7 linked regions of the Homo sapiens genome follow. The protein of the gene in region 7 purifies or fractionates together with the protein of the main gene of each other region. This does not show direct contact. Each region holds a gene or a part of one and is shown on either strand. Other genes may lie near its edges.

Evidence for each region.
Region 1: the proteins of PLEKHG3 (region 7) and HMGN3 purify together in Homo sapiens (affinity purification with mass spectrometry, with the first as the bait; one large-scale study listed by BioGRID). This does not show direct contact.
Region 2: the proteins of PLEKHG3 (region 7) and MYO1D purify together in Homo sapiens (affinity purification with mass spectrometry; one large-scale study listed by BioGRID and IntAct). This does not show direct contact.
Region 3: the proteins of PLEKHG3 (region 7) and MTMR14 purify together in Homo sapiens (affinity purification with mass spectrometry, with the first as the bait; one large-scale study listed by BioGRID). This does not show direct contact.
Region 4: the proteins of PLEKHG3 (region 7) and PTPN4 purify together in Homo sapiens (co-immunoprecipitation; one large-scale study listed by IntAct). This does not show direct contact.
Region 5: the proteins of PLEKHG3 (region 7) and PPP2R2C purify together in Homo sapiens (co-immunoprecipitation; one large-scale study listed by IntAct). This does not show direct contact.
Region 6: the proteins of PLEKHG3 (region 7) and KLHL21 purify together in Homo sapiens (affinity purification with mass spectrometry; one large-scale study listed by BioGRID and IntAct). This does not show direct contact.

Annotation. Positions count from the first base shown.
Region 1 is NC_000006.12:79,214,183-79,217,682, forward strand, and holds part of HMGN3 (high mobility group nucleosome-binding domain-containing protein 3), read right to left. Parts: intron 841-3,500; coding exon 790-840; intron 1-789. UniProt on the Homo sapiens protein: Binds to nucleosomes, regulating chromatin structure and consequently, chromatin-dependent processes such as transcription, DNA replication and DNA repair.
Region 2 is NC_000017.11:32,870,625-32,874,124, reverse strand, and holds part of MYO1D (unconventional myosin-Id), read left to right. Parts: intron 1-3,500. UniProt on the Homo sapiens protein: Unconventional myosin that functions as actin-based motor protein with ATPase activity. Plays a role in endosomal protein trafficking, and especially in the transfer of cargo proteins from early to recycling endosomes.
Region 3 is NC_000003.12:9,670,005-9,673,504, reverse strand, and holds part of MTMR14 (phosphatidylinositol-3,5-bisphosphate 3-phosphatase MTMR14), read right to left. Parts: intron 2,458-3,500; coding exon 2,335-2,457; intron 821-2,334; coding exon 747-820; intron 1-746. UniProt on the Homo sapiens protein: Lipid phosphatase that specifically dephosphorylates the D-3 position of phosphatidylinositol 3-phosphate and phosphatidylinositol 3,5-bisphosphate, generating phosphatidylinositol and phosphatidylinositol 5-phosphate.
Region 4 is NC_000002.12:119,982,661-119,985,399, reverse strand, and holds the end of PTPN4 (tyrosine-protein phosphatase non-receptor type 4), read right to left. Parts: 3' UTR 501-2,739; downstream 1-500. UniProt on the Homo sapiens protein: Phosphatase that plays a role in immunity, learning, synaptic plasticity or cell homeostasis. Regulates neuronal cell homeostasis by protecting neurons against apoptosis.
Region 5 is NC_000004.12:6,371,615-6,375,114, reverse strand, and holds part of PPP2R2C (protein phosphatase 2, regulatory subunit B, gamma), read left to right. Parts: intron 1-2,414; coding exon 2,415-2,592; intron 2,593-3,500. UniProt on the Homo sapiens protein: The B regulatory subunit might modulate substrate selectivity and catalytic activity, and might also direct the localization of the catalytic enzyme to a particular subcellular compartment.
Region 6 is NC_000001.11:6,596,370-6,599,869, forward strand, and holds part of KLHL21 (kelch-like protein 21), read right to left. Parts: intron 3,084-3,500; coding exon 2,678-3,083; intron 1-2,677. UniProt on the Homo sapiens protein: Substrate-specific adapter of a BCR (BTB-CUL3-RBX1) E3 ubiquitin-protein ligase complex required for efficient chromosome alignment and cytokinesis.
Region 7 is NC_000014.9:64,707,424-64,710,923, reverse strand, and holds part of PLEKHG3 (pleckstrin homology domain-containing family G member 3), read right to left. Parts: intron 1-3,500. UniProt on the Homo sapiens protein: Plays a role in controlling cell polarity and cell motility by selectively binding newly polymerized actin and activating RAC1 and CDC42 to enhance local actin polymerization.

The sequences.
Region 1 (3,500 bases), on a different chromosome or scaffold from region 7:
TATCCCTCTACAGTTCTTTTTCTTTTTTTTTTTTTTTTAGAGTCTCTCTCGCTCTGTCACCCAGGCTGGAGTGCAGTGGTGTGATCTCGGCTCACTGCAACCTCCACCTCCCAGGTTCACACCATTCTCCTGCCTCAGCCTCCCGAGTAGCTGGGACTACAGGCGCCCACCACCACGCCTGGCTAACTTTTTATATTTTTAGTAGAGATGGGGTTTCACCGTGTTAGCCAGGATGGTCTCTATCTCCTGACCTCGTGATCCGCCCGCCTCGGCCACCCAAAATGCTGGGATTACAGGCGTGAGCCACTGCGCCCGGCCTATAGTTTTTGATTTTAGAGATGATCCTTCTCAGGCAAAATATTCAGAACCTAAAAAGTGACTTATAATCCACTCACTGGAGCACAGAATTTATGAGATCAACAGTCTTTCATTTTCTTGCTGTGAAAGGCAGACTTTGTTCTCCTTGATGAATTTACCTATTATCTTACTCTTTGCCCAGAAGGAATTCTCAGTATCTGCTTTAACAGAAAGCAGGGCTGACAGGTAGAAACATAAACAACACAGTAAGTGGAAAATGCCTCATCAATATACCCAACTGAAACACACCTAGGCCAAGCGAGACTACATATAGACACTTATCGCTCTTTCAGGTAGTCTTAACAACCTTGATCATTCATATTAAACTTTGTTCATACAATTGTCCGCATTTCATTCAGATGCAGACAATCCTAACAATATTAAACATTTCAATGTAAATAATTAAATATAGGATGTCAAAGATATACTTACCTCCTGTTTAGTTACTTTGGATCCATCTTTGCCCTCTGTATTCTCTGGAGACTAGAAAGAAAATATTTCAGTGAATTGTATTTAAATTGGAAAACACACATTAGAAAAATGTTTTTAAAAAGTTATCTCATTCCCAGGACAAGACAAGCCAACAGATTTTTTTGCAAAGAAAAAGTAAATTACAACAGGGTATGTCTTTTACACACCTACGTGCATGCATGCACACACACGGTAGATAGCTGCATAACTGCTCGACTTTTAAAGCAGAAATGGTGAAAGAACTATGTGATTCCCTGTTCTCAATGTGCATTCACCCTAAGCGACTTTCATTTATCTTTGATGATTCCAGTTAAAGAACAGGGGCCAGAGGTCAGTGGCAGGAATGCCTGGGAGCCACCCTCTTGTTCCATTTGCTTGTTCCAGTCACTCCATTCCTTTAAGATAAGGGCAGGATGCTGGTAAAGCCCAGGCCAACCACAAAAGCACATTTTCATCCCATCCTTGCCTAGCCTTGATTTCTAGCCCATTTCTTGATATGAACTGACAAATTTATCATAGATTACCATTTTTCCATTATCAACTCCAGCATCTCTACTAAACTCCCAGCCTTGGCATGACAGCCAGGCTACGTGCCACCCTCAGCTGATTTATTTCCAGGTTTTGATCCATCCCCTGGGGCAGCACCTGCCTCCTCTTGTAACAGCTCAAACCTGATTCCTTTAAAGGATGTGTATACTATGGGAAAAACATATCTTATATTTTCTTTATATTTTAAAGTAAAATGTACTTTGGATTTATTGGACACTGCACATGTCCCAATATTTTTTATTGGCTAAGAGTTATTAAATAATATTAAAACAACTAAACTACTTAGAAAACTAGACTATTTAACATTTTTAAACTACATAAAGTTAGAAAGTGAATACTCAGTCTCTATGGCACAAATAGGCTGCTGATCTGAATAGAGCTCCTGTTAGAAAAAAATACAAATAGCAAACTGACATTTGACACGATGTTTGGCTCAGCAAAATAAAACAGCTATGTGGTAATGCCTCATCTGATAAAATGAGAACAAAATTCAAGAGATCATAAAACCCACTGTTTGAGGCTAGTGACACTGTAAATTAATATAATCGTTTCAAAGAACAACTTGGCAATATGAAAAAGACACAGAGAATTAATATGATGACCTAGTAATTTTAATTTTGGTACCTGGACTCAGAAAAAGAAACTCTTTGTAAAAATATGGTTTTATTTGTACTATTTCTAATATGGAATAAGTGGAAGCAACTCATGTATCAGTAAATAATAGAGAAATGATTAAGTAAACTATTACTTATTTACATATTTATGTAACAGTGAATGGAATTAAAAAGTTAGGTGATGTAAATACATGAAAAGTCCACATAAAATAAGGCTAAATTCAAAAACTTAGGTCATAAAAATGTACGCAAAACAAAGGTCCTAAGTATATATAAAAGTCTTTAGGAAAGATAAAAGCTTTTCTTCAAGGCAAAGGACCCAGTGACCTTTCTCTATTCCCTAGAGCTGCCCGTTACCCAGAGCCTATCATATGCCCTCTTTCCAGAACCTCCCATGTCATGGATTTCTCTCTTGTTTCCAAATTAACCATCTCCCCTCCTCCGTGGAACCTTCTCAATTATGAAGAAACAGTTTTCTCTTTTTTGTACCCCACTCTCTTGCACAGGAATATTTCGTTTATAGATCTTGTGTTAATCAGTCAGTTGTGGTAGAGATGGCAAAATCTTAGTCTGAGCATATGAAGATAATTCCTAGGTGGACCACTGGTCTTTGCTCACTTCCATGGCTACAAACTCAACCCTTCTGGCCACACAACAGACCCTTGGTTGTCTAGGAGTGCTGGGCTTTCATTCAGACCTGTCAGGTCACTCAGTAGATTTCAGTCTAGGGTACTCTCTACCTATAATTGATAGGCAGTTAAAGCAGCAGTACATAGCTATTATAAGAAAAACTGATGTTAATGACATTATTTTCATATTTTTCTATGCAGTGGATTAGTGACAGGCAATATGATGGAGTTCAATCTCTAAACACCGACCTAATAATGTTTGTATGGGATGCAAATTATTCAAAAAAGAGAAACTTGGAAAGGCACTGCATGAAAAAAGCAGGTACACTGAAAATGTGAATGCCTTCAGACAAATGAACATAAGGCTCTGGATGTAAAGAGCTAGCAAAGCTCGTTTCTCTGGCAATCTACCACAATGGCTTTCTATTAGCAAGCATTTAATACACCTGCAGTCAGGAACAATCAATCTTTACCGGGGATCAGTGTGATACAATGGTATGAATGCAGGATGTGAGCTCAAGACACCTGGTTTGAATCTTGGCTCTATACCTAGAAGCTGTACGATCTGGGACAGTGACTTGATCACGGTGGCTCAGTCTCCTTCATCCATGAATGATAGATGATAATGACAGCTAACTCAAAGGGTACTGCTTATGATCAAGTGAGATACTGGAGAAAGCATTTCATAAACTGTAAATTGTTACACAGAGGTTATGCAATAAAAAAGATCTTTAGTCTTCTAAATTATACAGTATGAAACTATATTCAACAGAGCCTTAAAGTTGAGCACATTTCCTTACATCCAGATTCCCTGCAAACTGGTTATCTGTTTTTGTTGCACAGAGTAACAGGTAGACTATTTTGGAAAGACCTACCATTA
Region 2 (3,500 bases), on a different chromosome or scaffold from region 7:
TATAGAGGAAGAGAGGAGTTGAGCTGAGTTCCAAAGGATGGGTAGGATTTGTAAAGGTGGACTCGTGGCTGGAGAGCATTCCAGGTGGATTAAGCAGCATGAGCAGGGGTTGGCGGCATGAAAGCTGACTCTGGGTGACAGTGAATAAGTTAAGTTGTTTGGAAGGGAAGGGGTTGGTGTTGTGGAGAGGTGGGAGGAATCACCAGCTCTCCATATGGCCATTGGCTAAGGCCCAGGTTTTTAGGTCTACCTTTATACCCAATCTCCACATCATTCAAAATCCTGGGTGTACAGATGTATATGTATTTGTATGTATCTCATCTGTGTGTCCTTGATGACTCTGAGAACTGGCTGTGGTTCTCATTGTACAGATCAGTGATTGTTCATGACTTACTTATACATTAAAATAGTTGGTTCCCTGTAGCCATAAACACAGTGCCAGCAAAGGGTAGCACCCTTACCCTCCTCTGAAACTATAAATTCTGACCCAGACAGAAAACAGTCCTCTCTTTCCTTTCACTTTGCAGAAGGTGACCAGAAACCCACCACTGCGTAATCCAGGTGCTGTTCTGTGATGTTGAAGTGTTTTTGTCTCCTGGAATATTGGTGGTTGGGCACATATTTCTGGTTGTATATAGCTGAAATTGAGCGTGTTTGGTCCATTGGTATATATGGATGTGTGAGTGAAATTCCCATGTGTGCTTGTACCTCATGACTCCTGCCCTCCCAAGCTGTAGTTCCTGCTCTTACTCCCCAGTCTGGAATGTCCTGTCCTCCCTTCCCACCTGGCTCTTCTGCAAGGCCTGCTTCCTTCCTTTAAGTCATGTAATAGTCAAGCACTCAAGGCTGCAGGTGCTTCATGGGTCTGTGTTTTCTCAACAGCAGCACCTAGCATAATGCTGGGTACAGAGTACATTCCTTCATGACAACATTTTTTTGTAGAGAGGGAAAAATGCTTGTTACTTTTTTTTTTAAAAGCTTATGTGGCATTGTCCTTTTAGAATTATCTTCTTGTTTTGCTATTAATCTGGCCTTCTTTTTCCCTCTTGGAGCTAAAGCTTGATTTTTAGACAACTGCCACAATTGATGCAACTTTCTCCTACCATTTTTACTTTTAAAAATTGACCTAGGCCGGGCGCGGTGGCTCACGCCTGTAATCCCAGCACTTTGGGAGGCCGAGGCAGGTGGATCATGAGGTCAGGAGATCCAGACCATCCTGGCTAACAAGGTGAAACCCTGTCTCTACTAAAAATACAAAAAATTAGCCGGGCGCGGTGGCGGGCGCCTGTAGTCCCAGCTACTCGGGAGGCTGAGGCAGGAGAATGGCGTGAACCCGGGAAGCGGAGCTTGCAGTGAGCCGAGATTGCGCCACTGCAGTCCGCAGTCCGGCCTGGGTGACAGAGCGAGACTCCGTCTCAAAAAAAAAAAAAAAAATTGACCTAGATGTGTGTCTGGATGGGGCAAGAGTAAAAGAGTGATGTGGATTACTGCGAGTTAGGATATCTGAGAAGGAGCTTCAACTTATATTTCTTGCTTTATAACAAAACCTGCGGCCGGGCGCGGTGGCTCACGCCTGTAATCCCAGCACTTTGGGAGGCTGAGGCGGGCGGATCATGAGGTCAGGAGATCGAGACCATCCTGGCTAACACCGTGAAACTCTGTCTCTACTAAAAATACAAAAAAAATTAGCCAGGCGTGGTGGTGGGTGCCTGTGGTCCCAGCTACTTGGGAGGCTGAGGCAGGAGAATGGCGTGAACCTGGGAGGTGGAGCTGGCAGTGAGCCGAGATTGCGCCATTGCCCTCCAGCCTGGGTGACTGAGCAAGACTCCGTCTCAAAATAAATAAATAAATAAAACCTGCTTGTGTTCTAACAAAACCCTGGAATATCTGAGAAGGAGCTTCAATTTATATTCCTTGCTTTATAACAAAACCTGCTTGTATTGTGAGGGCTCCTTCTTTCCCTCCCAGAAGTCTCTTGTTGGGGGATATTTCTTTTGACTTTTTGGTGGAGATGGAGGTGGTGGTGATAAGTTCCTCATTCCAATTTCCAAGGGTCTCTGCTCAGGCGTAAGACCTCTGTATGAGTCCTGCCTGCTTCCATGGTCAGGAGCAGTTCCTGCCAGCAACCCTGATGACCACTTGAAGCCCTAACCACAACATCCCTGTCCTACCATGTTCTGCTTTCTCTGTAGCCACTTCCTTTTTGGATGTGGAGCTCATTGGTTCCTTTTCTCCTTACATGGGCCATTCCTATACGTGAGTTCTTCCAGCATTAACATCAGCTTTGCACCCTCCCTCTGAGAGTCCTGCCAGGGCAAGCTGCTTGCATCTGCTCCTCGGCGTGCTCCTTACTCCGCACACTCCTCACTCTCAGCCATGTGCGTGAAAGGAAGAATGCAGGCTACTGCTCAGGAGTGGACTTGAGCCACGGACGGTGTCCTTGACAGAAATGCTTTCCATTTTATAGGACAATGAAATATACGTTAGACTTCCAGAGGTCCAGTTTCTTAACTTTATTTGTTATTGGTTCCTGTTTTGAGAATAAAGCATCTATTCAGTCTGATATCTTGGCTTCTCAGAAATTTAATTTTTCACCCTCTCTTTTCTTACTGGGTTTTGTCTTCCATAAAAGCAATCATCTGAAGCACTGTGCATGCCAAAGCTCCATGCAACTTCTCTTTTTTAATCTAACACAGTATGTCTTTTGTACCTTTGCTTAGACCTGGGATTTTCAGCCTTGTCACTATTGACATTTTAGACATTTTAGACTTTGTTGTAGGGGCTGTCCTGTGTGTCGTAGGATGTTTAGAAGCATCCCTGGCCTCTACTCACTAGATGTCAACAACTCCACTCCTCTTTCATTTATGACAACCAAAAATGTCTCTAGACATTGCCACAAGTCCCTGGGGGGGTTGTGTGTGGGTGGGTGTCTTTGTGCTCACATGCATGCAATATTATCCCTAGCTGAGAGCCACTGGCTCTTGCTGTTTTCACCCCCTGGAATGTCCTCCTTTCCTCATCTCTGCCCTCATTCCCTGCCTGCCATACTCTTACTCATCCTTCAAGACCAGATGTGAGAAATCTTTCCCAATCCCCCAAAACAGGTCAATGTCACATTCTCATGTGCTCTCAGGATACATGGACATTTATTCATAACAGAGAATTTATCATATTCATATTCCTCACCAACCTATGGAATCCTCAAAGGCAGATAGCCTGTTCAGAGGTAGATCCAGGTTTTCTGGTGCTTTGAACCTCATAATGCTTGGGGGCAACCACCTTTAAGAAAAAGAATGTAAATCATGAATGCAGAATAAAATGCAAGGCTTTGGAAGGGGAAGGTGCAAGTGAGTGGCTGTGAAGCAAACCTACCTTTAATCCTTTTGCGTTTTCTGTGATGCTACAGAATTTGCCCTTCCCCATGTTTAATACATCTTAAAATGAATTAACTGAGTACTCAAATGTTGGCTGATTGGTCTTCAACCAATGGAATTATTTCT
Region 3 (3,500 bases), on a different chromosome or scaffold from region 7:
ACAACATCTTGCACTGATGTTAGAGGTCCTTGGCCTCCCTTACTAAACAGGCAGGTATTGCCAGAAAACTTGAATGCTACACACTAGACCAACAGCTTTAATATCCAGTGCAGAGAATACAGCCCTGGCCACAGGTTGCACACACTTTTATGTGCCAGGAACAAATGCAGCTTTGTGGATACCAATGTGCTTTGCAACATGGTGTGGCCACTGTCCAGTTACTGGGAACATAGCAATTATGTGTTCTTCTACCACCAGAATAGCCTTGCCTGGGGCAATTTCCATAAATAACTCAATCACTTCAAGACATGCACCCAAAGGGTGACATCCACTCAGGCTACAGCAGCAAGTGTAGTTGCTCACACAGAGTACTAATAATGTCATTTTACACTTAAACAGTATTTTCATGCACAGACCACTTTCATATAAATCAAAACTGAGCTAAATCGTTCCAAGCTCCTGAGAAAACTTGAGGCTTGGAGGGGTGAAGTACTTCACTCAAGGCTGTGGCTAGGACCAGTGACAGTACAAAATCCCTAAACCCCTTGAGTGGAAAGCCCCTTCCCCAGGACACTATCCTATGCTTAGTGTGGCCTGTGACTGGGAACCAAAATGTCCTACACTGCCTGACACAAACCCTCCAGGAAAGCTCCCAGGGCGCCAGTGTAACTAAGTAGAGAGGGCTTGCTCATGGCCCCCAAGGTCCCCAGTCCTAGGATGCCTGCCACTAGAAGAGAGCCCCCTACCTGGATACGGGATGGAGAGGAGAGTGAAGTCGGCATAGCGCTGGGCTTTGTCCACCTTCTCAGAGGAGGTTACACTACAAGACAAGGATACAATGTGTTACAGTGTCGCAACACACACACAAACACACACCATTCCCCAAATAAGGGTTATAATCACAAATGAAGCTTCTGCTAAAAAAAACTATTCTTCATTGTTAATAATTCCCTTCAGCAGTGCCTACTTTGTACAATTAAGAACTATAACTTCAGCTGGGTGCATCGGCTGGAGGTCATGTTCCCAACATGGAGAAACCCCGTCAAGACCAGCCTGGACAACATGGTGAAACATTGTCTCTATCAAAAATATAAAAAACTAGTGGGGTGTGGCAGCGCGCTCCTGTAATCCCAGCTACTCAGGAGGCTGAAGCAGGAGAATTGCTTGAACCCAGGAGGCAGATGGTTGCAGTGAGCCAAGATTGTGCCACTGCACTCCAGCCAGGGTGACAGGGTGAGGCTCCATGTCAAAAAAAGAACTCTACCTTCTCTGCCCCTATTCCAACATATCAACCAAGGGAAGTTACTCCCCCTCTAATACTACAGCAAGCCTCAATCAGAGCCTAAAGGTGGAAAACAACCTTCCACCTGACCCCAAAATGCACACAGTGTAGCCACTCTGACCCAGGAATGAGATGAGAGCCAAATAATATGATCCTATGGGAACCCTTTTTTTCTGCTCTCCTGTCTTCTCTAATAGTCACTGAGCCCACTTCTGAACAGGGTGAACAAACAGCATCTGAAAATAAACACTGGGGACTCTGACAGATAAAGGATGGGAGGAATAAGGCAATATTCAGATCTGAAGATAGGTGAGCTCTAACGTTAGCCTCAGTATGCCTTATTTTCTAAGACCACCTTTTAGGATCATTTAAAAACATTTAAAAATCATTTAAAAAACAAAATTTTGGAAAAAGTTCCTGAAGTCTCATCACTAACCCAGGCTCTATTTTTTAGTTTTGACTTCTTATATTTGAATTTGGTCCATATGTGTTATTTTTATATGACAGCAGTCACTGAAGTAAAATTTGAATATATGCTGATTTTTTTGTTCAATTTTAAAAGAAATTCTAGGACCAGGCACAGTGGGCTCATTCTTGTAATCCCAGCACTTTGGGAAGCTGAGGCAGGAGGACTGCTTAGGGCCACATGTTTGAGACCACTTTAGGCAACAAAGACTCTGTCACTATGAAAAATAAATTAAAAAAATTAAGAGATTCTAATCTGCCACACATGGCATAGAACATGGAGCTGGAAAAAAAAAATACAGAGATATGTAAGAGAAGGTGGCAGCAGAGCACTGGGTAGAGACTGATGGCTGCCTCAGTCACTAACATACAACCTGAGCAAGCTACTTCATCTCTCTGTGCTTCAGTGTCTGTAAGAGGGGGACACTGGTACCTATTTTGCAGGGCTGTCTGAAGATACAGTGAGATAATGTACAGAAAGCCCTTTGTAAGAAGGCCAGCACGCAGTGACAGCTACATACTAACGCCAGCCCTGCAAATCTGTACACACTGCCTCTGCTCATTTTGTAGTGGGCGCCTGTACTTACTTCATGCCAAACTTCACCTTCTTGTTCTCCACCATCAGGTCACAGATGTATTTGACTGACAGGTATCGAAGCAGCTTGATGTCATAGCCTCTGACCTTATCAAAAAGATGCGTGTCACCACTTCTGAAATAAAGAGCCAGAGGGAGAAGTTACATGGCATGTTCACTCACAGGAGCTTGGGGGTGGGCACTCATTCAGGGAAGTATGGATGTCACTCTTCTCCAGAAGCTGGGGCGTGTGCTAGGTGGACGCATGGGTGCCAAACAGGACAACTGATTTCAGCGAGGTTGCAGGGAAGGTGACTTTCTAAGAGACTACCCCAATCTCTGGGATGTATTTCAAAGAAGAGAAATTTGCAGGTGGAAATGGAAAAGGACTTTCTGGCATTGCTTGACATTAAGCCAGAAGACTCAAAATAATCTCAGCGTTCTAAAATGCAGCAGGCTGGTGGCTGATAGAATCTTTCCGTTTCCATTAGAATTGATCCCCTTCCACCCCCTCCTTTTCCCCCATTTATGATCATTTTTAGCCACATGACTTGCTCATAATGTAGCAGTCTGAAATACTTGTACAGATAAAGTTTTTAGAGCTATTTTATCAACTGATTATGAAATACTAGCAAGTAAATTCCCTCTACCTAGCAGGCCGATGAAGCAAAGAGAAAGATAAAATTTTTCTATCTCACTGCTGCCTTTTGATCAGCCCTGCAGATACAGGCAGAAGTAGAAAGCATAAACAGTCGCCATTACTTTTTTATTTTTTAATCCACACTGCTTTGTTGTCCCCAGCAGTTTCCTTGCTAAGAACAGTGTATGCTGAAGATGGTGACCTGGCTGGGCAGAGGTCACCTGATCTAGGGAGAAGAGCCAAACATTCTTGAGCACAAGCCAGAGCCGCTGCTTTCAGAGCTAACAGGCAGAACCTGGGCATAGCAAGATGCCCTTTCATGAACTGAACTATGATTTGGGAAGCTGATCTTAACTAGGGTGCTTGTGTGCATTCCAGAGATGCTTGACACCAGTTAAAGACTTTCCATGTGGTACAGACCATGCAAAGGAGCTTTTCTAAAATATCCTGTAGTATTGTTTTCTAAAAACATTTGGAAAGCGGATAGCAAGAGTGTGAACCAGCCCATTTCCTCCTTTTATAGGGACTCAAACTCCTGT
Region 4 (2,739 bases), on a different chromosome or scaffold from region 7:
TTTTTTTTTGAGATGGAGTTTCACTTTGTCACCAGGCTGGGGTGCAGTGGCGCAATCAATCTCGGCTCACTGCAACCTCCACCTCCCAGGTTCAAGTGATCCTCCTGCCTCAGCCTCCTAAGTAGCTGGGACTACAGGCGTGCGCCACCACCCTCAGCTAATTTTTGTATTTTTAGTAGAGACGGGGTTTCTCCATGTTGGCCAGGATGATCTCGATCTCCTGACCTTGTGATCTGCCCGCCTCAGCCTCCCAAAATGCTGGGATTACAGGCGTGAGCCACCGCGCCCGGCCTCTTCAGACACTATTTAATCTTCTAAATCCCTTTTAGTTCCTCACCTACTCCCTTTCCTCAAATACAGCCACTATGTGAGTCAATAACTCCAGAAATAAATTTTACACTTGTCATTCTCTCCATTCCTGATAACCAGTTACTAAATATAACCACTGTTAGAAAAGCCCATGAAAAACTCCCATAAAATAATCTTCAAAACTTCTGTACTTTAGATTACTAAAGCACATCTTTATTTTGCAATTGAACATTAAGAGTCATAGCTAGAGTTGTTTGTCATGTTTGTACCTGAACAACTGTTTCTCAAAATGAAATATGGCCAACAAAATATGTGTAACAGCATTTCACATAATATAAATTGCTCTTAAGACTAAAACAGTATTAATGCAAACCAGCATTTTTATCTTGTTTGCTGTAGTTGTAATTTTTTTGTACATGAATGGCAGAAATTCTAATTTTTTCACTAAAATTAAGACAAACACACAAGGCCTTTCAAGCATACAGTAAGCTGCAGTGACAAATGCAGAGTGATTTCAAATTATGCAGTGTTGACCAAATTCAAGCTTATACACATTTTAAATAAACCCTTAGCTTCTTTGCCTCAATTATGAGATCATATGGAAAGAGATATTTTTGTGATATAGGGGGAAAGGTAATCTAAAAAACTAAGGGACCAATTCTGTTTTGCCACTAGTTTAATAGAATCAAACATGAAATGAATAATTGTATCTTAATTATGACATAAGCTAGACTTTTAACTAAGTGACTTTTCCCCTTCATATTTACAAATAGCACCTGTTACAAGAAAAAAAAAATCCCAAATTAAAACACCCTCCACATAGAAATAATTATTTTTAAAACTACTACTTAAAAATATCAATAATGCAGATATAGTAAATTATCGGTTCTAAAATTAAGCCTACACTGTAGAGAATAAGGAGTAGCTTTTCTTATTTGAAAAGATTACAACATAGATTACAACTGTAATGTCCTGATGCTGGAGAACACTGGGTTGAACAATTTTTATTTTTTTAAGCAGATAGAGTCTACTGGCAGAAAATAAAAACAGTTTAATGTAAACTGTTTCAGTCTCTTAAATCGTGCCCCTCAACATGTATATAAAGTGTCGGGACTTTTATTCCCTTAAACTTACTTGTGCAGCATCTACTTCACCCTAGGTACTACACTGAAAACAAATGGATTTCTAAGTATTCATGTGATGCACAAAAAAATCCAAAGCAGAAATGATAATAAACCAAGCTTAGATGAAACTAGCTGTGAGAACTCAGAGTCCAGTAACACAGTCAACTGGTTATCCTTTATTGTGCTACATAAATTACAGAAAACCTGCAAAGCTAAGATCACACAAGTTGCTCTTAAACATCAAATAAGCTGTGAAGAGATCATTATATTTAAACCTGGGTCCAATCTAATGACCTCCAACACTAATTAAAATTTTCCCACGTTTACAACACTTCTAGGATAATTTTATTTTAAAATGTATAAATTAAGTTGGTGGTCAGCATGAAATAAAGTGCAACTATTTAAAATTCAAAAAATCAAATTTAGCATTGAAATTTGACCTAATCTTGCCAACTCATTAAAAGATGGGAAAAGACAGGTGCCAGAGAATCCCAGACTTGGGTTAAAATTTTCTTACCCAGGAAGGCAAATAACTTGAACACTACAATTCAGGAGTAGAAACTAAAAAGCTTCTTTGAATATATGTTAAAATGAGCTCAACTGTGATGACAGTGGGGAAGTACCCAACTGCCAATTTGTGGAGAAAGCATGAACCAGCACCTGTTTGGGTCTAAGGGTGTGAGCGGGGCTATCTCCCCCTTGACGGATTCCTGGTAATAATTGTACTTAGCGATGTGGCATTTAAGCTTATCACAAGTAATATTTGCTAAATTTTGGAAACTCCCAGGGTTGAGAGAGCCTGACACCAATCCTTTCAACAGTTATAGCAAAGTTCATGAAAGAAGAGATCACTTTGTACTTGAGTACTTAACAAAGAGTTAAATTAGTGATTTTTAAAAAGTTGGAGACGTGGAAAGAGAAATAAAAATAATGAAGTCCTCACTGAGTCAAGTTTCATGAGTGATGAATAATAAATACCACCTTTTAAAGCAGCTGTTGCACGTATTAATCATACCTACAAAGGTGGTTTAAGATGTAGTTCTTGTTCAGCTGAATTAATATAAACTCGTAAGCATATAAGACATCACTGCTACAATTCAGAGTTGGGCCAAGTTGTCTCAACTGTCCAAGACATTGGGAATAAAAAGGCAAAAAGCATTTACTGGGTCAGGGGCCTCTGCACATACTCACTGTAATGAATCTTAGGCACAGTTTTCTGGCTTCACAAAAGTCACACCCTCACAACAATGTCCTCATTTGACAAAGCCTGGCAACGTTCTCTATGGTAAACACATGCAGCAACACA
Region 5 (3,500 bases), on a different chromosome or scaffold from region 7:
AAGTTTATGAGGGTTTCATCTAGAGGGAAGGATACAGCGATCACATCTTGATCACCCTGGTGTTTGGGGCAGAGCCAGTGGCCTTCATAAAAATCCTGTTTATGTCCCTCCCAGCGTTGGAGATTTTTCTCTGTAAGTCACACACATCCCAAGACACTTAACTGTCACTGAGAACCTGGGTGCCCTGGTCTGTCCTCATCCTGCCTCTCACCTTGTTTGCTTCCGATTTCACCCACGCCACGCCAACCCTGCACAGCATTCTACCCACCCTGCGCAGTTCACACTGGAGGCAGCTGTTTACTGAGGAGCTGCTCCACGCTAGGCCCCGGGCTAGCCCTTGGGGCCCTAGAGGTGAGCAAGGTTCAACTCAGTACCTGTCCCCAAAGTGTCCCCAGCCCCCAAGGAAACAGACATGGAATCGCCATCACACTGGCGCTCAGTGCGGTGACAGAGGAACACAGAGAGGCCGTGGGCACCCCAGGAGGCCTTTCTCTACTTTGTCAATTTGGTGAACTCCCATACATCCCATAAAACCCTACTGGCCTTCACCTCTGTAAAGCCTTTCTGCGCAGGCCAGATGACAATTGTGATCTTTCCTGTGTCCCCTCTTGCCTTTTGGATCCGACACTGTCTGTCCTTAGTGTCTGTATCTTCCTTGCCCCTCATCTTGACTAGACTGTGGCTTCTGCGGAGGCAGCATGTTTTACTCATGAAACCCCCAAACCTTCAGGGAAGGTTTCCTTTCTCTCTTCTTCTCTTTACTAAAAAACTGGTTTTGAGCTCTGGTTTGGTGGATGGCAGCAAATGGCTGGAGCACTGGATGAACTGGGTCCCAAGGCCGCCTGGAGAAAACAGAAAGCAATGTTGCCGGAAGGAAGCAGGAGGTGGACTGAGATGCCAAGACTTTGCTGGGCCAGTGATGCTCTGCCCTTCTCCAGAGCAGCTGGGCTCCCTCTCTCTCCTGAGAGTCCAGGGATCCCCAGGGTGGGCAGTGGCTGCACCCCGAAGGAAGGGAAGGTTAGCAGCATAGCTAAAATATCTGACACAGGAATACGTGCAGGGAGGATGCCTTGGAGGAGTCACACTAACACCAACTCCCAGGCACACAACCTAGAAGCAAAGACACAGAGGCAACAATGCAAGAACCACCCAGAGCCAGGCTGTCACTCACACCGGTGCTGCGTGCACACACACACACACACACACACACACATGCATGCACATACACGTATACTCAGTCATGCATGCACACTCACATGCACACTCATATGCACACACTCATACATGAACTCTCAGCCATGCACACTCCCACACACACAGGCTGGGTGCCCTGGTGTGTGGGAAAATTTAACGTGGGCTGCAGAGCTGCCTCTGCTCCAAAGGAGCTCAGTGCTTGTCACTCCGACTGCAGCACCGAGGCTGTCACCTCCCATCTCAGCTGTTCCCTGAGAGCTCAGGGACACAGCCCATTCATTCATTCTCTCACACATTCACTCATTCACTGGAGAGTCTCTCTGCTAGGCCTTGGACTGAGCGCTAGAGAGATGGAGAGATAAACAAGAGGTGACGCCTTGCTCCCGTAGCTGATCCCTAGTCCACTGGGAAAGCTGATGGGACCAGTTGACAGCCTCAGGGTTGGTCAGGGCTGTGCAAGGGACCTTCAGGGCTGTGAAAGCTCAGTGTCTGATGCCATGGCAAGGACTCCTCGCACCAACTGTCTGAGATGAAAGTTCGTATGAGTCAGGCTAACTCCACCGCTGTAACAAAACAACACCAGCAGTCCAGGGCCGAGCACGGAAATGCATTTCTCACTATGGGAAGGTTCGATGTGGATGTGCTGGTTGGGACACAGCTCTCCTGCAGGATCCTTCCATCCCCATCCCATGAGTCTCAGTCCCTAAGGCTTGGGTCCTCACCTTCCAGGTGGGGAAGGTGCTCCCGCTGCTTAGCTGCATCAGGGCCAGGTATCACTTTGCTCACATCCCATTGGTCAGAACTAGTCATGTGGCCATGTCTGGGCACAAAGGCTGCTGGGAAATGTAGTCCACATGTAGACAGCTGTTTCCCAGTGACAGCACTGCATTGCAGGAGGAGGTGAGGAGGCCTGGCAGACAATTGGCTGGCTCTGCCACAGTATCTTTTTGTTTCATTTTAGAGTTGAGGAAATTGGGGTATAGGAGGGTTCAGCCACTTATTCACAGACCCACAGCAGGTAAGCATCCATGCCTCTCTTGCAGGGCTGGTGGGCGGCGGGCATTTGCCATCTGTCACTGCCTATTTCAGACCACGGAGGATCAGGATGGACGCCCACCCCTGTGTTCCAGCCTCCGGTTGGGATCACATGCTCACGGCATGCTATGTCCTGATGCCACCACCTGGCCTTCACCTCTTCCCTGCCTCCTCATCCTCTGCAGGTGCCAGTGCTGAAGCCCATGGATCTGATGGTGGAGGTGAGCCCTCGGAGGATCTTTGCCAATGGCCACACCTACCACATCAACTCCATCTCCGTCAACAGTGACTGCGAGACCTACATGTCGGCGGATGACCTGCGCATCAACCTCTGGCACCTGGCCATCACCGACAGGAGCTTCAGTATCCTTCACTGTGGCCTGGCCAGTGCCTCCCACGGGCAGAGTAGCTTCCGTTGGGTGGTGGGTTTGGTTTGATTGGCAGACAGCTGGTTTGGGGATGGCTGCATTGTTTAACTTCTTCAGTGAGGCACCTCTGGCTCCTAGTATGCGTGTGAGGCCCAGATACAAAATCATGTCACGTCTGTTTCTGAAAACCGCAAAGTCGTGGTTGCTGAGCATTGCACCCATCGCCTCCTCCAGCATGGCCATGATCCCCTCATCCTAGGGCCTCACAAGGGGCCAGGAAGGAGACAGAGTTCAGGGTTCAGCTGCTCTGGACGAGGGACTGCTGGCCTTGCTCAGCGTCCACTGAAGGCGCCTCGGGGCCCTCCCCACTGGGACCCAAGGCAGGCTGTGTTAGCATAGGAGGACCAGCACTGGGGCCCCGGCCAGGGCTTCGGGTGACAACCAGGGTGTCAGAAGCCCAGCTGGGTTGGGGTCCTGAGGGCCCCCTGCTCGGTGTTCTCCTGTGTCAGGGCAAGCTAGGGGAAGCAGCAGCATTGACGATTCCCGCCGACTGCTGGGAAGAGAGCTGGTGATGACATGAGCACCAGCCTGCAGGCAGGGCGAGGCTTGGCCTGCCGGGGGGCTGGTGGGCGGGCAGGCAGGTTGCTGTGATGTCACTATTCTGCATACAACCAATGATAATAATAATTATAATAACACACAGTGAGACTCTGTGTGCCAGGCTCTGTGACTAACATCAACAAGCATTCATTTTAACTCATTTCACCTTCACAACAACCCTATGAGGTAGGTACTATTCTAAGTCTCCTTTACAGATGAGGAAACTGAGTCACAGAGCACTCAAGTTAACTTGCTCAAAGCTCACAGCCAGCAAGTGTCAAAGCTGGGCCTGAAACCCAGGCC
Region 6 (3,500 bases), on a different chromosome or scaffold from region 7:
ACAGTGAGCCAAGAGCGTGCTATTGCACTCCAGCCTGGGAGGCATAGTGAGTGAGACTTCGTCTCAAAAACAAAAAAAAGAAACAAAGATACTACAAGACAAACAACAGTAGTTGTGAACCTGACACGGCAGCACAAAACCAGCCACAGACAATGCATAGACACGAGCCTGGCTGTGTGCCAAGAAAACTATCCATGGACAGACATTTACATCTCGTCTAACTTGAAATGTTATTCCTGATTTTTTGCCCCCAATCATTTCAAAATGTCAAAGTCACCCTCAGTTTGTGGGCCCTGTGGTGGTGGTGATGATGATGATGATTACACCCTGGAACCTGCTAGGCTGCCCTGTCTTTCCCCAGCAGAGACTTGCAAACCACAGCCCAGAGGCTGGACAGAGCTCGCCGGCATTCCCAGAGGGGGCTACTGCACCCCAGCCAAGGAGGCATTTTGTACCAGAACCAAGGGGAGGGAGGCCCAGGTCATTTGTGGGTCACATGGACAACGGCTGAGGCTGTGGCCTCCCTGAGAATGGCACGTCCTAGGCACAAGCTGCCCAAAGACAGGTGGTGTTCTGGGCAGAGGGTTATGTGGCTCTTGAAGAGCCAAAGTGCGCAGACAAAGTGACACCGGGACAAATAGCCCAGGGGGACCAGCCCCAAGCAGGGCCCCTGCATGCTTAGCCTTCTCTTTAGGGCTCAAGCAGCTTCCACTCAGGCTGAGCCTGGGCGCCCCTCCTCTGTGCTCCGGCACAGGTCACACTGGTAAGATGAACGCATGCAGCCTTTCCAGAGCACTGCCTCCTCCCACACGTGCAAGTGGCTTAGGAAACCCCTGGAAAGGTCAGCAGTGGGTGGGGGTGGCGGGGCAGACCCTCATGCTTCCCTATGGGAAGGTTAACCCAGCAGGCAGACCTCCCTGGCGCACATCTTCACATCTTGCTCTAGGACAGATGGGGGAGGGGAGGAGGACTCTCAAAGACACTGGGCCTGGAACCACTGCCTAGGGGCCGAAAGGAAGGTTCTGGCCCTCTGATAAGTTGTATTTATAGCCATCTCCACCCCCTCTTTGAAGACACCTTCACAACTTGGGGGAGGGAGAGCCGGGCAAAGGGTCAGATGATGTTTTATAATGGGACCAGAGCTGGCTGAGATTCCAGGGCTTTCTCAGAGCAAGACCATTGGTTCTGGGCATGTGGTGGTGCCCAGCTACTTGCGTGACAAGCAACGCCACCCCTGTTCTTCTTGGTGCTCACTCCAAAAGCCTGGTAAGGAGCCTCCTGTCTGGGGGGATGGTGGGGCAGATGCCAAGGCCAGGGCAGCTCTGGCAGTGCGAGGCAGGGGGCCAAGGAGCAGGGAGCTCACATCCCCCAAGCTCCCCATTCAAAGCCCCAGCACGAAAGGGCACAGTGGGGACTGTCATTCAGTTCTTCCCCTTCCCTCCTGGACCCAGAGCTTCAGGCAGGCTCTAGGCTGGGAGGGAGCAGCAGGATTATGTGAACAAGCAGCGGAGTACAGCAGGGAGGGGCTGCCCCGTGCCATCATTGATGCCCAGAAACCAGCCGGAGGCAGCATTTGGCTGTGACCAGACAGGTCATCAAGGCCAGCAGACATATGATGACCCGCAGGCTGCCTGTCTCTGCTCCGTGCTGCTCAGCCTACAGCCTACTCTTGCTGGAAGAGCTCAACTCCACCACCTGTGAAATCGCTTAAGAAAGCCTGGGGTTTTCCTTAAACCCAAAGGAATGGAACAAGCACTGTGGGCTCCGAAAGACCAGGCCTGGCTGGGTGTGGGGGCTCACACCTACAATCCCAGCACTCTGGGAGGCAGGAAATGTGAGACGATTGTTTGAAGCTAGGAATTTGAGACCAGCCGGGGCAATACAGCGAGACCCTGTCTCTACAAAAAGTTAAAAAATGAGCCAGGTGTGGTGGCTTGTGCCTATAATCCCAGCACTTTGGGAGGCTGAGGCAGCTGGATCACATGAGGTCAGGAGTTCTAGACCAGCCTGACCAACATGGAGAAACCCTGTCTCTACTAAAAATATAAAAATCAGCCAGGCATGGTGGCACATGCCTGTAATCCCAGCTACTTGGCAGGCTGAGGCAGGAGAATGGCTTGAACTTGGGAGGCAGAGGTTGCAGTGAGCCAAGATCGCGCCACTGTACTCCAGCTTGGGCAACAAAAGCGAAACTCTTCTTTTAAAAAAACAAAACAAAACAAAAAAAAACAGACCGGGTGCAGTGGCTCACGCCCGTAATCCCAGCACTTTGGGAGGCCAAGGCGGACCGATCATGAGGTCAGGAGATCAAGACCATCCTGGCTAACACGGTGAAACCCCGTCTCTACAAAAAATACAAAAAAATTAGCCAGGCATGGTGGTGGGCGCCTGTAGTCCCAGCTACTCTGGAGGCTGAGGCAGGAGAATGGCGTGAACCCGGAAGGTGGAGCTTGCAGTGAGCTGAGATTGCGCCACAGCACTCCAGCCTGGGCGACAGAGCGAGACTCCGTCTCAAAAACAAAACAAAACAAAAACAAAGAGACAGACCCAGCCTCCAACCCCAGCTAGGCCTCAGTTTCTCATCTGTGGAAAAGGGAGAACAGCCATGATGTGTGCTTAAGACAGGGCCTGGTAAGAGACACCAAACACACAGTGGGGCTCGGCACCTGGAACTCACCTGACAAAGTACATGAGTCCGTTTAGAGTCGCAGTCTTGGGGGCGAAGGACCAGGGCGGGAGCTGGCCGCAGTCCACCAGCGACCACAGGTCGGTGTCCGGGTCGTAGCACTGCATCACCATGGTCTCCTTGCCAGCCAGGGAGCCGATGGCATAGAGCCGGCCACGGCACGCAGTGGTGGAGCAGTTGTCCATGGGGTAGGTCATGGGCTGCAGGGCCTCCCAGGAGTCAGTGGTGTGGTCATAGCGCTCGGTGCTGTCGGCGGCCACCACGTACAGCAGTCCGTCCAGCACAGAGGAGCTGTGGTACTCGCGGGCCTTCAGCATGGGCGCCACCTCCGCCCACTCATTCACGCTTGAGTTGTACCTCCACACGCAGTCATAGAGCCGGGAGCCATCGGACCCACCTGCCAGGACGCATGACAGGCAGAAGATCAGCCCACTCAGGTGAGTCACCCACCTGCACCCTCCCGAACTTCCGCAAGGGCCTCTGCCTTGGGAGGAATTAACATCACTGGGCTTCACCCCAGACGCACACCCTCTCCCCAAAAGCCCAGGCCACATGTTGTGGCTAAGGCAAAGCACACGCTGACCACTGTCCAGCGAGATGACTGCTGCCAAGCCTCTACCAAACAAAGGTCCTGAGTGCAATGCTGGAAGAATCCAGCAGCCTCCTCTGGACACCGCCCCCCAGCCATACATACACCTCAGCAGACCAGAGCCCTGGGCCTTGGGACAGTTCTCCTGGGGAGCCACAGAGCTTGTCAGCAGGGCACACAGGGACTTGCTCACTAACTCCTAGGCTTCCTGGGCACCCTCCAAGC
Region 7 (3,500 bases):
TCTGGGTCACAATTACCAGCAAAGCATAAATTATCAAACTGATGATCCCCAGACACCCAAGGTGTGCCAAGTCATTCCCTCCACACCCCCTCCCTCCAAAAAAAAAAAGATCCCCGGCACTTCTGCTAGCACTTGCTTTTCCTGGAGTTTTTATCTCAGTCTGCTCTCACTGCCAACTCTGCACTGTAGTCATTTTTCCCCCTCTATGCTTGTTTCTTTATCCTCTTTCATTTTATTTTTTTAATTTCTTTTGAGACAGAGTTCTGCTCTTGTCGCCCAGGCTGGAGTGCAATGGCGCAATCTCGGCCCACTGCAACCTCCACATCCTGAGTTCAAGTGATTCTCCTGCCTCAGCCTCCCGAGTAGCTGGGATTACGGGTGCCCGCCACCATGCCCAGCTAATTTTTGTTATCTTTAATAGAGACGGGGTTTCACCATGTTGGCCAAGCTGGTCTCAAACTCCCGACCTCAGGTGATCCACCGGCATCAGCCTCTCAAAGTGTTGAGATTACAGGCATGAGCCACTGCGCCCGGCCTTTATCCTCTTTCATTTGCTGCTTCTTCCCAGCTTGAACATAGCATGACATAGCTTATATGTAGAAGTTAAACAGGGTCTGAGAAGACTGGCATGAAGAAAAATGTAGGACCTTGAGTCCTCGACCTTCTTGGCTACATGCAAATAAGCAAGGGTGCTGGGTGGCTGAGTTCCAAATAAGAGTTTAGGGTAGGAGAGGTGTTATTGGATATTATGGAACACATTATGGGAAGAACTATATCCAACGCTATAAATACACCCTGCTGTCCACTTTGGGGCCAACTTGCATGGGAGCAAAATGTGTAGCAAGCTTTGGAAGACAGGTCCCAATGACTGTAGGTCTCCTTCTTACATGCTGCAGGAATACAGGGCTTCCTGTCCCACTGTCAGAACAGCTGACTACAGGTTAACTTCTTAGAATCTTATGGACATTCTCTGTCAGGAACAGAACATTCATAGTGTGAGCATTTCCTTAATTCCTAAGGTCTCGTCACACAGTAGGGTTTTACTTACTTATTCAACAAATACTTATTGGAATCCTACTGTACAACAGGCACTGGGGATGTAGCAATGAACTGAAGGAATAGAAGCTATATGAGAATACTGGTTCCTTTCTAATACTACACACACACACACACACACACACACACACACACACAGTCTCACAGCCTAGGAAGTAAAGGATGTGAGTTTTTAAGAGCTTCCGGCACCTGTAGAAACCATCTCTCCTTTTGGGACCCTGTTCCCAAGGTAAAATCGACTTCATTCCTCCTGCATCTTTCCCTTCCAGTCCCAGCTCCGATTCTGGCAATAATCAGATCAACTTCTAGGACCCTCAAACTGTGTTTCACAAAAGGCTGCATGCACAGCTACCACTGTGCCCACGAGAACCCTATTTGGGTTGTGTTCAGCCCAAGTCTGCTCAGCATGAAAGAGAGTGCAAGTCCTTAAAAATCCATTCCTTGAGCTTACGTAGGGCTCCCTCCCCAAAGGCCAGCCGCCAGAACTGTATAAAGCCCTCTTCTCCCTAGTGCTTGCATTCCCAGATGGCAACAGCCCACCTAGGGCTGGACTCGACCCTAACACTACCTTCTTCTCCCTAATCCCATGGAACAAAAGCTGTAGCAAATGAGACCACAAGCCCAGATTACTCTAAGGGTGGGACCACGGCTGAAGCCCATCACTCCCTGTTGATCACACTTTGTACCATTCTCAATGCTGTCTGGGCACAAAGATGAGTCCAGCACCATTCCTGTCCCCAGATAGCAACCCAGTTAGCATGGCCAACCTTTATCCCCAGGCAGCTGACAGACAGAGGGGCTACCAGCAGCTCTAGATGGGCCCCCTGCTGATCAGTTTAGTCCACGTTGTCCAGTTTTCTTTCTCCTGACTTCAGGTCACCCAACACTAACATGCTTGGGGCTGTTCAGGGCCCTCTTTGCAACTTCCTCTAATATCAGATCATCTAGCTTTTACCCGTCTCCAGGCACCAACTGGCAGTCCCAGGAAGTTCCTTCATCACAGGGCCTGCCTGGCTGCCGAGTGTGCAGCGACATACTTGGGGGGTGGGGCGGGGGGGTGGAACTGGCCATGACCACTTCCCTAGGCCTCATCCTCCACTGCCCATCTCTCACTTCCTGAACTAGGGCAGGGTCTCCAGGAAGCCACTCACCACAAACTTTGACAGCGGTACTTTAGATTAAACCCCTCCCTTTGTAGGCCCGTGGTTCCAGCAGAGAGGGTCGGAGACTCAGCAGATCAGCTGGGTAGAAGCGGCTAGGAGTTAGGCAGCCGACCCTGAGTTCTCATTGTGTCTGTCACTCTGTTACTTTAAATTCTGGTCCCTGGCGAACCCTTATTCAAAGTCTTCCGAGCCATCTCGAAGCCTCCACCAGAATCCTCCTGCCACCCTTCTGGGCTTTCCTAGGACAGCTCCACCCACCATCTGCCCCCTCCCTCACTTTCCCTACCCCTTGTCCCCGCCCCACTCCGCTTCCGACCTCCAGGCATAATTTACCTGCCGGAGGCTGGGGGAGGGGTGGACAGCCTTCCCAGCTGTGAGGCAGAGTCGGGAGGTCAGGGAGAAGGTGTGATTCATTGAGTCTGGCTGGAAGCAGGGGGAATTCCAGAGCAAGAGGGGGGTGGTCAGGGCTGCCCCTGTCATCCTATCTGTAGGATGGGGGTGGGCATAGGACATACCTGGGAGTCCCACGTCCTCAGCCATCTGCAATCTAGGGTAGGGCAGGAAAGCCTCCCTAACCAGAAAGTTTTTGCCAAGGTTTTCTATTTTCCCCTCCCTCTAATTCCCCACTCCTGCCCAATATCTAAAATGAAAAGCTTTGCACCTACAGTCCTTAGCAATGACATTAAATATCTCATGCTACCCCTGCAGAATTTGGTTGGAGAAATAGTTTATCGAACCTCTCTATAGTCTTTGCTAAGCATTCAACATACGTTATCTCACTGTACATTGCCATGATGCCGCATGTGGTAAGTATGATGACTAACTCCACGTTGGGTAAGAAACACAGCTCAAAGGAATTTAGCACCACATCAAAGTCCACAGGGCTAGTGAGCTGTCAAGCCAGGGATTTGAAACCAAGGTGTGTCCAACTCCAAACTCTGTTCCTCGATGCCACAGTGGGATGAACTGGGCTTCAAGTTAGAAAAGGCAGCGATGAAGAAAAATACCGCCTTCAGGCATCACCTCAAAAGTACCTTCCTCCTGGAAGCCTCCCTGGCCACCCTATCTAAACTGTCACCTCACCCCTTCCATGACAATTCACACCTACCTTCCCTATCATATTTTTTATTTCTGTTTATCACTAACACACTTGCTATTTCAATCTTGTTTATTGTCACTTCTGCTAAAGTCAGCTCCACTGGGTCAATAATTATTGTATATTTTCTTCACTGCTGTGTCTTCTGCATCTGGCATTCATACATAGTAGGTGCTAACTCCTTA